Regions from separate parts of the Homo sapiens genome. Here region 1 is linked to region 2. The links come from fine-mapping of genetic effects on gene expression. A gene starts in region 2. The other region holds a variant in brackets. All regions are shown on one strand. Distances are between the middles of the regions.

Region 1 (5,370 bases), 730 kb before region 2:
GAACTGGCCCCTCAGCCATCAGTGGAGGTGGCCTGAGAGGCTCTACCCTAAACGGGGTCTCCCCAAGGCGATGCAGAAACTGGGACATGCTCTGCTGAGCATGGGGCTTACTGGAGTGAGGCTTATAGGCAGTCCCCACATGGGGATTAAGGTGTCAGCTCTTTAATCCCCTCACTGTTCCCATCACAGGCTGACCAGAGTCGGCCCCAGGGCCCAGCCAGGGACACAGAGGTTGGGGGAGAGAGGGAGACACAGAGAGACTCAGAGGTCCTGAGAAAGACAGGCAGAGAGAGATGATGCAGAAAAACACCTGGAGACACTGAAAAGAGATGGAGAGGAAAAGGAAGAGACAGATAACGCAGGGATGGCAGAGAAATCCTGGAAAACAGAGACCGGGAGGAGAAAGACAGCCACTGAGAAAAGGGAAAGACAGCGATGTCCAGAGAGAGGAAAGACAAAGATAAATAAAGAGAACAGAAATGAAGAGAGATAGAGAGACCTGAGAGAAAAAGAAAAAGGGAGGAAAAGAAAGAGAGAAACAGAGAAATCCAGTCTAATTACAAAGAGATAGAAACACCAAGGCGGGAGGATCACTTGAGCCCAGGAGTTTGAGACCAGCCTGGGCAACATAACGAGACCTGGTCTCTATAAATATTTTAAAAATTAGCTAGGCATGGTGGCACGCACCTCTAGTCCCAGCTACTTGGGAGGCTCAGGTGGGAGGATCACTTGAGCCCAGGCAGTCATGGCTGCAGTGAGCTGTGATGGTGCCACTGCACTCCAGCCTGGGCAACAGAACAAGACAGATGGAAGGGAAGGGAAGAGAAGAGAGAAGAAGAAAGGGAAAAGAGGGGAGGGGAGGGAAGAAAGAGGCTGGGCACGGTGGCTCACGACTGTGATCCTAGCACTTTAGGAGGCTGAGGCAGGAGGATTGCTTGAGACCAAGAGTTGAAGACCAACCTGGCCAACTTAACAAGACCCCATCTCTATAAAAAAACAAAGAGAGGTAGGGAGGAAGAAAAATTGGGCATTCATTCAACAAACATTTACTAAGTGCCTACTGCTGTGCTGAGCGCTATTTTAAGTGCTGGGATACAGAAGCAAACAAGACAAAATCCTTGCTCTGGAAGAGCTGACATTCCAGAGGACAGCCCACCCGAGCAAAATGGAGGAAGAGTCAGGAGCTGGGGAGAAACCAGAGGCCATAATAAAGAGGATCCATTAAAGCCTGTCACAGAGGGTGGGGTAGGGCTGGGGGAGGATGCAGCTTACTGTGCCCCACCACACTCCCGCTGTCAGTGGAGTCAGCAGCTCTGAGCAGGGGCCCTGCCAGACAACCCATGTCAGTCACCAGGTTCCAGAAAGGCTGACAGGTAGGAAGACCCAGGACAGGGCAGGACAGAATATGGAGGTACAAGGGGGTCAACATGCAGAAAGGCACCCTGAAGAAATAAGGAGAGGCACAGAAGTGCCAGGCTGAGACAAAGGGAAGCACAGACTGGGGGAGATACAGGGAGAGGAAGACACAGACATACTGAAAAGAGAGACAGAAAACAGACACAAACAGAGGCAGAGACTGAGAGAAAGGAGAGAGAGATGGGAAAAGATGGAAAGAGGAGAGAGAGAGAGATGAACACAGAAACATAGAGACTGAGCGTGAGGGAGGCTGGGCACGCTGGTTCATGCCTATACTCCCAGCACTTTGGGAGACCAAGGCAGAAAGATTGCTTGAGCCCAGGAGTTGGAGACCAGCCTGGGAAACACAGTGAGACCCTGTCTCTTCAAAAAATACAAAAATTGGCAGGATGTGGTGGTGTGTACCTGTGGTCCCAGCTACTCGGGAGGCTGAGGTGGGAGGATTGTTTGATCCCAGGTTGAGGCTGCAGTGAGCCATGATCATACCACTGCACTCCAGCCTGGGGGACAGAAGCCAGACTCTGTCTCAAAAAAAGAAAGAAAAGAAAAGAAGGAAGGAAAAGAAAGAAAAGAGAGAGAGAGCAAGTGAGACTGAGAGATGAAACAAAGAGACACAGAGAGACCCTCCCAGAGACAATGCCAGTCCTAGGCTCTGCACAGTCCCCCCCCCCCCGCCCACTGGCTCGCCAGGTCTGGGCCCTGTGCCAGGCACTTGGAGGAAGGCTGGATTTGGCCAAGCAGGGGCAGGCAGGAGGGTGGACCACATTCCTGAACAGTCTGTTCCAAATACAGCCCCAACCTCACTCACTGCTGCCACCACCGCAACCCTGGCCCATCCAGGCCTGAGTCTGCCCCCTCTAGCCCATGCCCTAGGATTGGGGGTAGTGGGGGATAGATGAGAGAATAAGGGATAAGTTTGTCTGCCATCATGG[C/T]CTGGCCTCAGACAAGGACTTGGGGGACTGGATACCAGGGGGTTCAGCAGCATGGGCACAGAACATTTGGGGGCATCTGGGAGCCAATGCCTTGGGAATAGAGATGGTAGATTCAGGGCAGGACATAATATGGAAGTACAAGGGGGTCAACATGCAGAAAGACACCCTGAAGAAATAGAGGCACAGAAGTGCCAGGCTGATGGACACCCAGAAGCCAGGGAAATTGAAGGCAGATCTGGGGAACAAGCGTAGCACACAGGGTCCCAAGAGCAATGGAAGTGACAAGGGCTCAGGTGTGAGCTCCTAGGAATCACAGGCACAGAGCACAGGAGTGCCAGGGGTGTCTTTAGAAGTGTATTTGAGCCAGGAGCAGTGGCTCACACCTGTAATCCCAGCACTTTGGGAGGCCGAGGCAGGCGGATCACCTGAAGTCATGAGTTCAAAATCTGCCTGGCCAACATGGTGAAACTCCGTCTCTACTAAAAATACAAAAATTAGCAGGGCCTGGTGGTGCACGCCTGTAATCGCAGCCACTTGGGAGGCTGAGGCAGGAGAATCTTGAACCTGGTAGGCGGAGGTTGCAGTGAGCCGAGATCGCACCACTGCACTCCAGCCTGGGCGACAAGAGCGAAACTCTGAAAAAAAAAAGAAGGAGAAGAAGGAGAAGAAGAAGGAAGAAGAAGAAGAAGAAGTGTATTTGAGAGTCGGTGTGTATTTAGGAATCAGAGGTACAGGGTACAGCGTTCAGGGGGCCCAGAGATGGCCCGGAGATTGAGGAATACACACCTACAGGCCAAATAAATTGGACTCAAAGGTGCTAGGGGCTCAGGAGGGTGCACCTGTTGGCCAGGTGTGTTGACATGAAAATGCTGGTGTACGAAAGATGTTAAGTGGGGCAGGCTGAGGCAGGCACAAAAAAAAAAGCCAGGAGGAGCCAGGGCACAGTTCCACCAGGGCTGGGGGTGGGCTGGAGACGTCGGGCTGGGGAATCCATGGAATGAGCAGCCCTGAGATGCCCACTCCTCCCACATCGGGTCTCTGCCCCTGCTCCACCCAAGACCCCTTGGAAATCAAATAGAGGTGCAGGCGTGGAGAATTGCAGGCATGATGATCGCGGGTATCGCTGCGCTGCTGTTGTGGCTTCTGGTGCTGGTGCCGGCGTGGTGGGGGTAGGGTGGGTGCCGCGCTCAGATGCGGGGGTCCCTACCTCCCCGGCCCAGGCTGCTCCCATTGCTGGGGAACTTGCAGCTGCAGTCCGGAGGCCTGGACCGCGCGCTCCATTCCCGACAGGAATGGGGGAACGGAATTCTGGATTCGTGGAGGTGGGGCTGGGGACTAGAACTCCTCCTGAACGAAGACAGCTGAGGGCTTGTACTCTATGATCTTGAGGAAGGACAGGAAGGATGAGTGCTCCGGACTGCTGAGTACTAGGAAAGGAGAATAGGGAGTGGAGAGCCTGGGGCCGGGACACTGGGTCGTAAGGAAGGAGCCCAGAGCAGGAAATCAGGTTGTGGGAAGAGGGGAGCAGGGGGTCTGTTCTCCTGGTTCAGGGTGGGGAGGTACTGAGGGCCCAGGAGACACTCTGAGGGTACAGGAGGTTGGGAATCTGGACTTCTAGGTCCCAAGGGAAGAAGGAAGTGGGGGCCTGGACTCCCGCATCTCAGGGAGGAAGGAGCTGGGGATCTGAATTCCTGGACCTGAGGAATGAGGGTCTGAGACGAGGACTCCTGGGTCTGAAGGAAGAGGGAGCTGGGGGCAATGGCTCCGATGAGGAACCCTATGGGCACCCGCTGAGCACCGGCTACCCGTAGCTCTCCGGCCGCTGGGGCCGGGTGTTCACAGTGCGGCTGGGCCCGCGCCCTGCGGTGGTGCTGTGCGGCTACGCAGCGCTGCGGGACGCGTTAGTGCTACAGGCGGATGCGGTCTCCGGCCGCGGGTCCATGGCAGTCTTCGAACGCTTCACACGCGGAAACAGTGAGGCCCCGGCGCTGGACTTGCCGGTCCGGACGCTCCAGGCTGGGCGGGTAAATGGTAGAGGCGGGCAAATGGGGGCGGGGCCTAATAGAGACTCCAGCTAATGAGGTGCAAACGGCCGAGAGAGGGCGGGGCGGCGCTAAAGCGTAAGGTTAGAATGGAGGTTCATCCTGCAGCCAACAGGAGAAAAGAGCCTAAGATTCAAAGTCCCAGAGCCAGCCTAGGTCAGGGATGGAGCCCAGCAAAGGCGGGGCCAATGTGTGGATAGGGCACTTGGAGGTCTGGTAAGGCAGCAAAACGAACGAAGCCGGCCGCAGGAGTCGGAGGCCCCGAAAGGGATGTAGCCAGTGACCCGGCGCTTCCTGGATGGGGCGTGGCCGGTTCCCGGGCCCGCCTCCTTTCCCGTCCCCACCACAGGAATCTTGTTTTCTAACCGGCCGTGCTGGTGGACACTGCGCAATTTTGCACTTGGAGCGCCGAAGAAGTTCGGGTTGGATACGCGGACCATCGAGGCGCGTGTCCTGGATGAGGCGGCTTGTCTGCTAGACGAATTTCAAGCCACCATTGCTTCGGCCTGGCCGGGAGAGCGGAAGGGCCTGGTGTGGGAGAGTCCCTTGCACTGCCAAGACGGGGCCACTGGAAGGTATTTGGGTGGAAGAAAGCCAGTAAGCCCATGGGGCTGGCTGGGGGCAGGACCACGCGTTATGACCACCGTCCTGTTCCTACCCCCAGGAGCCCCGTTTGACCCCGTGCGGCTACTGGGTAATGCTGTATCCAGTGTTACCTGTTCTTGTCTTCGGGAACCGCTATGGCTACGGGGACCCGGAGTTCCTGAGGTCCTGAACCTCCTAAGTGACAACTTCCGCATCATGAGTTCCAAATGGGGCGAGGTGAGAGGGCCGGCCACAATCTCTCCCTTGTGCGTCCAGCCTTATGCCAAATCCCGAGTACACAGACGTACCTACAATGGGACAGTTAGATTCTTGGAAGAGTTCTAGAACCTCCAATATCAAAGTCCCTGTAGGGAAACTAAGGCCTAGTGGGCATG
Region 2 (5,370 bases):
TAATATTGTGTTCCTTGATTGTAGCAAAGGTACCACTCTGGTGTGGAATGTTGATAGAAAGGGAGGCCATCCCTGTGTGTCAGCATGGGGACTATGGGAATTCTGTACTTATACACTAAATTTACAGGCATGAGCCTGTAATCCCAGCACTCTGGGAGACCAAGGCGGGTGGATCACAAGGTCAGGAGATCAAGACCATCCTGGCTAACACGATGAAACCCCGTCTCTACTAAAAATACAAAAAATTACCCAGGCGTGGTGGCGGGAAACTGTAGTACCAGCTACTCGACAGGCTGAGGTAGGAGAATGGTGTGAACCCGGGAGGTGGAGCTTGCATGAGCAGAGATCACACCACTGCACTCCAGCCTGGGCGACAGAGCGAGACTCCGTCTCAAAAAAAAAAAAAGTTTATTGCAAAAGCTTGAGTATCTTCAGTTGTGGCTTCAAATCCGGGCTCAGGCTTTAACCTTATGTGACCCTGGACAAATGACTTGACTCTAAGGCTCAGTTGACTGGTCTATAACCACCTCACAGAGTTGTCAATTATGAACCTGTAAAAACTAACATGTACAAAAATTAACACCAGGGACACAGTGCTGAGAAACTGTGTTCTCTAAAATCACAGACTGCCAGAATTTTTAAAAATCTTTAAAATCATAACAATAGTGAAAATGGGACATCTCATTCTTACCTGGAAAGTCTAAGTCACTTTGACACAGAGAAGCAGTCATGATCTCAGAGAAGCGGTTTTTAGAGACAACATTGTACATTTATCTAAACTTTCTAATGTCCAAGGAAGCAGAATCCTGGGTCTGCTCCTCGCCCAGGCATGATGTTAGCTCCGTTGCATAAATACATGCCTGCTTTGCCTTATGTCCATCAAAACTCTGCTTTATATAAATTTTACCTAAGCTTCACTCTTCCCAAAATCCTATATTCACCCTGTCTCTTCCTTTGGTCAGGCACTCCAGAGTTCCTCTGGAGAGCTTTAAAAAAAAAAATTAAATTCAATGAAATGACTTAAATGAATTAAGTGTAAATGATTCAGAACTGGTATTAGAAATTATTAAAAGTGGGGGCCAGGCACGGTGGCTCACACCTGTAATCCCAGCATTTTGGGAGGCCAACGCAGGTGGATCACCTGAGGTCAGGAGTTCGAGACCAGCCTGGCCAACGTGGTGAAAACCCGTCTCTATAAAAATACAAAAATTAGCCAGGTGTGGTGGCAGGCACCTGTAATCCCAGCTACCTGGGAGCCTGAGGCCGGAGAATCGCTTGAACCCGGGAGGTGGAGGTTGCAGTGAACCAAGATCACATCATTGCACTCCCGCCTGGGCGACAAAGCGAGACTCCAACTCAAAAAAAATTAAATAATAATTACTTAAATTATAAAAAGTGAATATAAATTACCCAAGTACCTGGAGATTTCCAGTTAGACATGCATATATTACCCACTTTGAATACATATGGAAATATGTATGTGTTGGTTCTGGAAAAACAATTGAGATAATGAAAATATTTTCTCAAGTTTTAGAAACAGTATGAGATAGGTTTCAACAACATTCTACATGAATGTAAAACCTTGATTTAAATATATGATCTTATGCTAGAAGCATGGTTGGTTTTAATTTTTCTAACAGATACGAGTCTTGGCTTATTAATAATTAACACATTTTGCAGCCACAGTATCAGTGTGGGGTAAAATTCTAATATTTGCTCTTATGTTTTAAATTCTCAGTCTTTCCAACATAAGAAAATAGCTACACACATTTCAGTGTTTCCTTTTTGCAACAAGTTAACATAATTTTATTGGACCACGTTATTTAGTTGTTGGGCCTTGTAAGGATTAAATGAGATCATGCATGTAACACTACAGTAACAGCCACATGATAAATGTCCAAATAATATTTACCTGTGCCTGGCACAGAGCAGGCACTCAAAAAATATTTTTTAGAGCATGTGACGCGCCATGAACCAGAGGAGCCACTTTAAATGGACAAACGGGGATCTCATTTTTTTTTTTTTTTTTTAATGGTGAGACAAGCCCTGAGAAGGCAAATGGACTGCCTAAAGCTACACAGGTCAGCGGGGCAGGTAAATCTAAATTGGCAAAGTAAGGGCTGAGCGAACAGACTCCGACACTAGAAGGCAGAGCTGAACTAACTTCTGCTAAGGTCCCGCCTCTGCCGCTTTGTCCCGCCCTTATCTTCTCCCCTCCTCCAGCGCCTCATTCCCTTTTCGCTCGCCCCGGCCGTGCTGAAGCAACTTCCGCCCTGAGAAGGGTGGGGCTTCCGTCTCCCGCTCTCGCGACTCCTGGCGGTGAAGGACGGAAGATGATAGCCACATTTCTTCCTCGCCCTTCCCCTAGGTTCCCTGTCACAGTTCCGCCCTTACTACTCCCACTTCCGGCCAGGGAACAGCCACTTCCACCCGGAAAAGGGGTTGTTCCGCCGTGGGGCGCCAGCTGTGGCCCACCCATCCTGCCCCGTACTTTCGCCATCATAGTATTCTCCACCACTGTTCCTTCCAGCCACGAACGACGCAAACGAAGCCAAGTTCCCCCAGCTCCGAACAGGAGCTCTCTATCCTCTCTCTATTACACTCCGGGAGAAGGAAACGCGGGAGGAAACCCAGGCCTCCACGCGCGACCCCTTGGCCCTCCCCTTTACCTCTCCACCCCTCACTAGACACCCTCCCCTCTAGGCGGGGACGAACTTTCGCCCTGAGAGAGGCGGAGCCTCAGCGTCTACCCTCGCTCTCGCGAGCTTTCGGAACTCTCGCGAGACCCTACGCCCGACTTGTGCGCCCGGGAAACCCCGTCGTTCCCTTTCCCCTGGCTGGCAGCGCGGAGGCCGCACGGTAAGCGGGGGCTCCGAGCTGGACCGGGCGCGAGGCGGCAGGGCCGGACGCCGAAGCCTCAGAGCGCGTGCCTGAGGGCCCCGAGGCGCCCGGCGCGGGCCCGTCCCGCCCCCTAGAGCCGCGGCCACGTGCGAGCGGCAGGCCCGGACATGCCCGGTCAGCGCCGTCCGGGAACCGAGCGTGGGCCCCGGGGGGCAGCGGCGGGGTGCGTGGGGCGTCCGGAGTCCCGGGGCTGGGGAGTGGGGTCGCGCAGGATCCTCACACGCAGGGGCCGGGCTCTGTTAGTGCGATCCAGAGAGGCCGTGGGCGTCGGTGAGCTCCTTCAGACCCGCAGGAGCCGGAGCCCGGCGTTGAAGGGGCCGTGGGAAGTAACGGGGGGTACCACGGTTTAGGATGCGCTGGAGCGAAAGGATTGGGGTGGGGTCCGTGCTCTTGGCAGTCGTCTCTGCCAGGCCTGTGTTCACATGCTTGACTTTCTCCCTCAGATGCCTGGAGTTACTGTAAAAGACGTGAACCAGCAGGAGTTCGTCAGAGCTCTGGCAGCCTTCCTCAAAAAGTGAGTTTGGGGACTGAGGTTCAAAACGGGTGGAGGCTGTCGCCTTGGCCTGCCCATCTGAGCCCCAGTGTTTGCCGGTCCCTGGCAGGCGAGGCTTGTTTGGGGCCTCCGTGGCTCCTTTCAGCGTGAGGCCTGGCTTGTGTTCCGGTTCCAGCCTCTCTTTGTACTCTGGGCACAGCATAGTTGTGTTGAGGGGAGGGCATTTGGGATATGGGGTAGTTTGTGGAGATGACTGAATCGTGCTTTTCCCACTGTTTTGGTCTTAGGTCCGGGAAGCTGAAAGTCCCCGAATGGGTGGATACCGTCAAGCTGGCCAAGCACAAAGAGCTTGCTCCCTACGATGAGAACTGGTTCTACACGCGAGCTGGTGAGGAACTTAGGTCTTTGGCTGGAGAGTGGGGAGCTGGGTGACCCCTGGCACAAACCATACTTCCCTGTCTCCTCTGAGCTCTTTCCCGCCCCAAGAGGGAGAGAAACCCTTGGTTGTGTCACCACTTGCTTTGTGTGATGTGACATTCGATAACTTGGTACTCCAAGTTTTTATGACATTCTAAGAGCTTTGTGAGAGGAGGACCTGTGGCTTTGAGCCTCAGGGGAAACCAGAGACAGATGAATGTTCATATTTTGCTTACAGGTGGTTTAATCCTTTCTATATACACGGAGGCAGACTCCCTGGGTTTGGATCCATCTTTTACATCTGGCTGTGTGTCCTCTGGCAAGTTGGTTAACCTGCCTGTGCACTCTCTCATCCCCAAAATGGGACTAATTATTGTACCAGTACTAGAGTATTGCAAGGATTGAATGAATTTAAAGCAGAGTGTTTAGAACGTGTCTGTTGCACAGTAGTTATTCAGGAAAAAGCCAGTTGTCTTTACTATTGCTCAGATCATCAAGTTAGCCTTCTCCATATCTCTAACAGGCTGTTTCTAACTAAATGGTTGGAGATCTGGCCAGGTCAGTCCCTGCTTTAAATCTTGACTTCTGATCTTATGGACACCCTGCAACCTCGTGCCAGCCCCGTCTCTTTTCAATCTTCCAATAATAATTTATGTACAGTCCCTGACTAGTGTTAGTTCTCACGTGTCTTAATATTTCAGTACTCACTAAATCTTCACTTTCAGGAAGATGTAACAGGGTGGGCGGTGGCAGTGCCGTGTTATGTCAAGGTGACAGCCTTAGCACCGACCTTCACTAAGGGGCCTCGGCCTCTCCAATCTTAAACCTTCTCTCTCTGTGAAGTGGGGACTCCATCCTGACCACAACTTGTCTCCAGATAAGAAGTAGGTGGGAAGCAGGGTTTGGAAATCGGCAAAACTCCTCCATGACCCGGAAAAGAGTTGGCCTTGGTACAGGTTGCTTGGCCCTTCAGAATATGAAGCATTTTGTAGATTTGTGGTACACTTGTGCCTCAAATGTCTATTGGGGCCCACTCTTTCAGGCCATGGAGTGAGCACAGAGGACCAGCATAACTCAGCCGCGGCCTCTGAGGACTGAAAGATGAACTTGCTGAGGTGGGTCGGGTTGCTGGCATACCACCTACCCACCGTTTGTTTTAGACAGAAAATGGGGCGGATGAAGAGAAGCTGACTTCCCTGGGCGCACAGCAGTGACAAGCCCTGGAAGTTACATATCTCCTCCACCTGTCCCCCCATCTTGCTTTGGCAGTGCCTCAAGGGTCAGTTGGTCAGAGCAGCTTTGGATCTGGGATTAGCCTTTCTCATTTGCTGGGGTGAAGACACGTTCTGCACATACCAAATACCTCCAAAGTAGGACTGTATGTGTCTTGTACATTTTTTTTTTTTTTTTTAACATGGGGAGGGATTAACAAGAGATGGCATTAAGACCTTGGATAATAAACCTAGTTGCATCTGCTGGTCATGGTAGAGCTGCTGTGGTCCCTTGCAGCCCACAGTGGCCCTGCCTGGAAACCTCAAGCAGGATGTGCATCTTCTGCC

Evidence for each region. PIP is the estimated chance that this variant, and not a neighbour inherited with it, causes the effect.
Region 1: its variant is fine-mapped to the expression of RPS19 in fibroblasts (GTEx, PIP 0.91).

The regions. Positions count from the first base shown.
Region 1 is chr19:41,131,267-41,136,636 of GRCh38, forward strand. It overlaps LOC124904790, which reads right to left. Exons shown (of 3, transcript XM_047439802.1): 3 at 4,368-5,370. It also overlaps the pseudogene CYP2T3P. Among named protein-coding and RNA genes, the nearest start is that of CYP2F1, 20 kb to the left of the region's middle. The variant C/T (reference allele first, on the strand shown) is at 2,349.
Region 2 is chr19:41,857,431-41,862,800 of GRCh38, forward strand. RPS19 (ribosomal protein S19) reads left to right here and starts at 2,825. Exons shown (of 6, transcript NM_001022.4): 1 at 2,825-2,859; 2 at 3,345-3,415; 3 at 3,682-3,782. The coding sequence starts at 3,345. RefSeq lists an enhancer at 2,528-3,283 and silencers at 2,837-2,966, 3,027-3,146.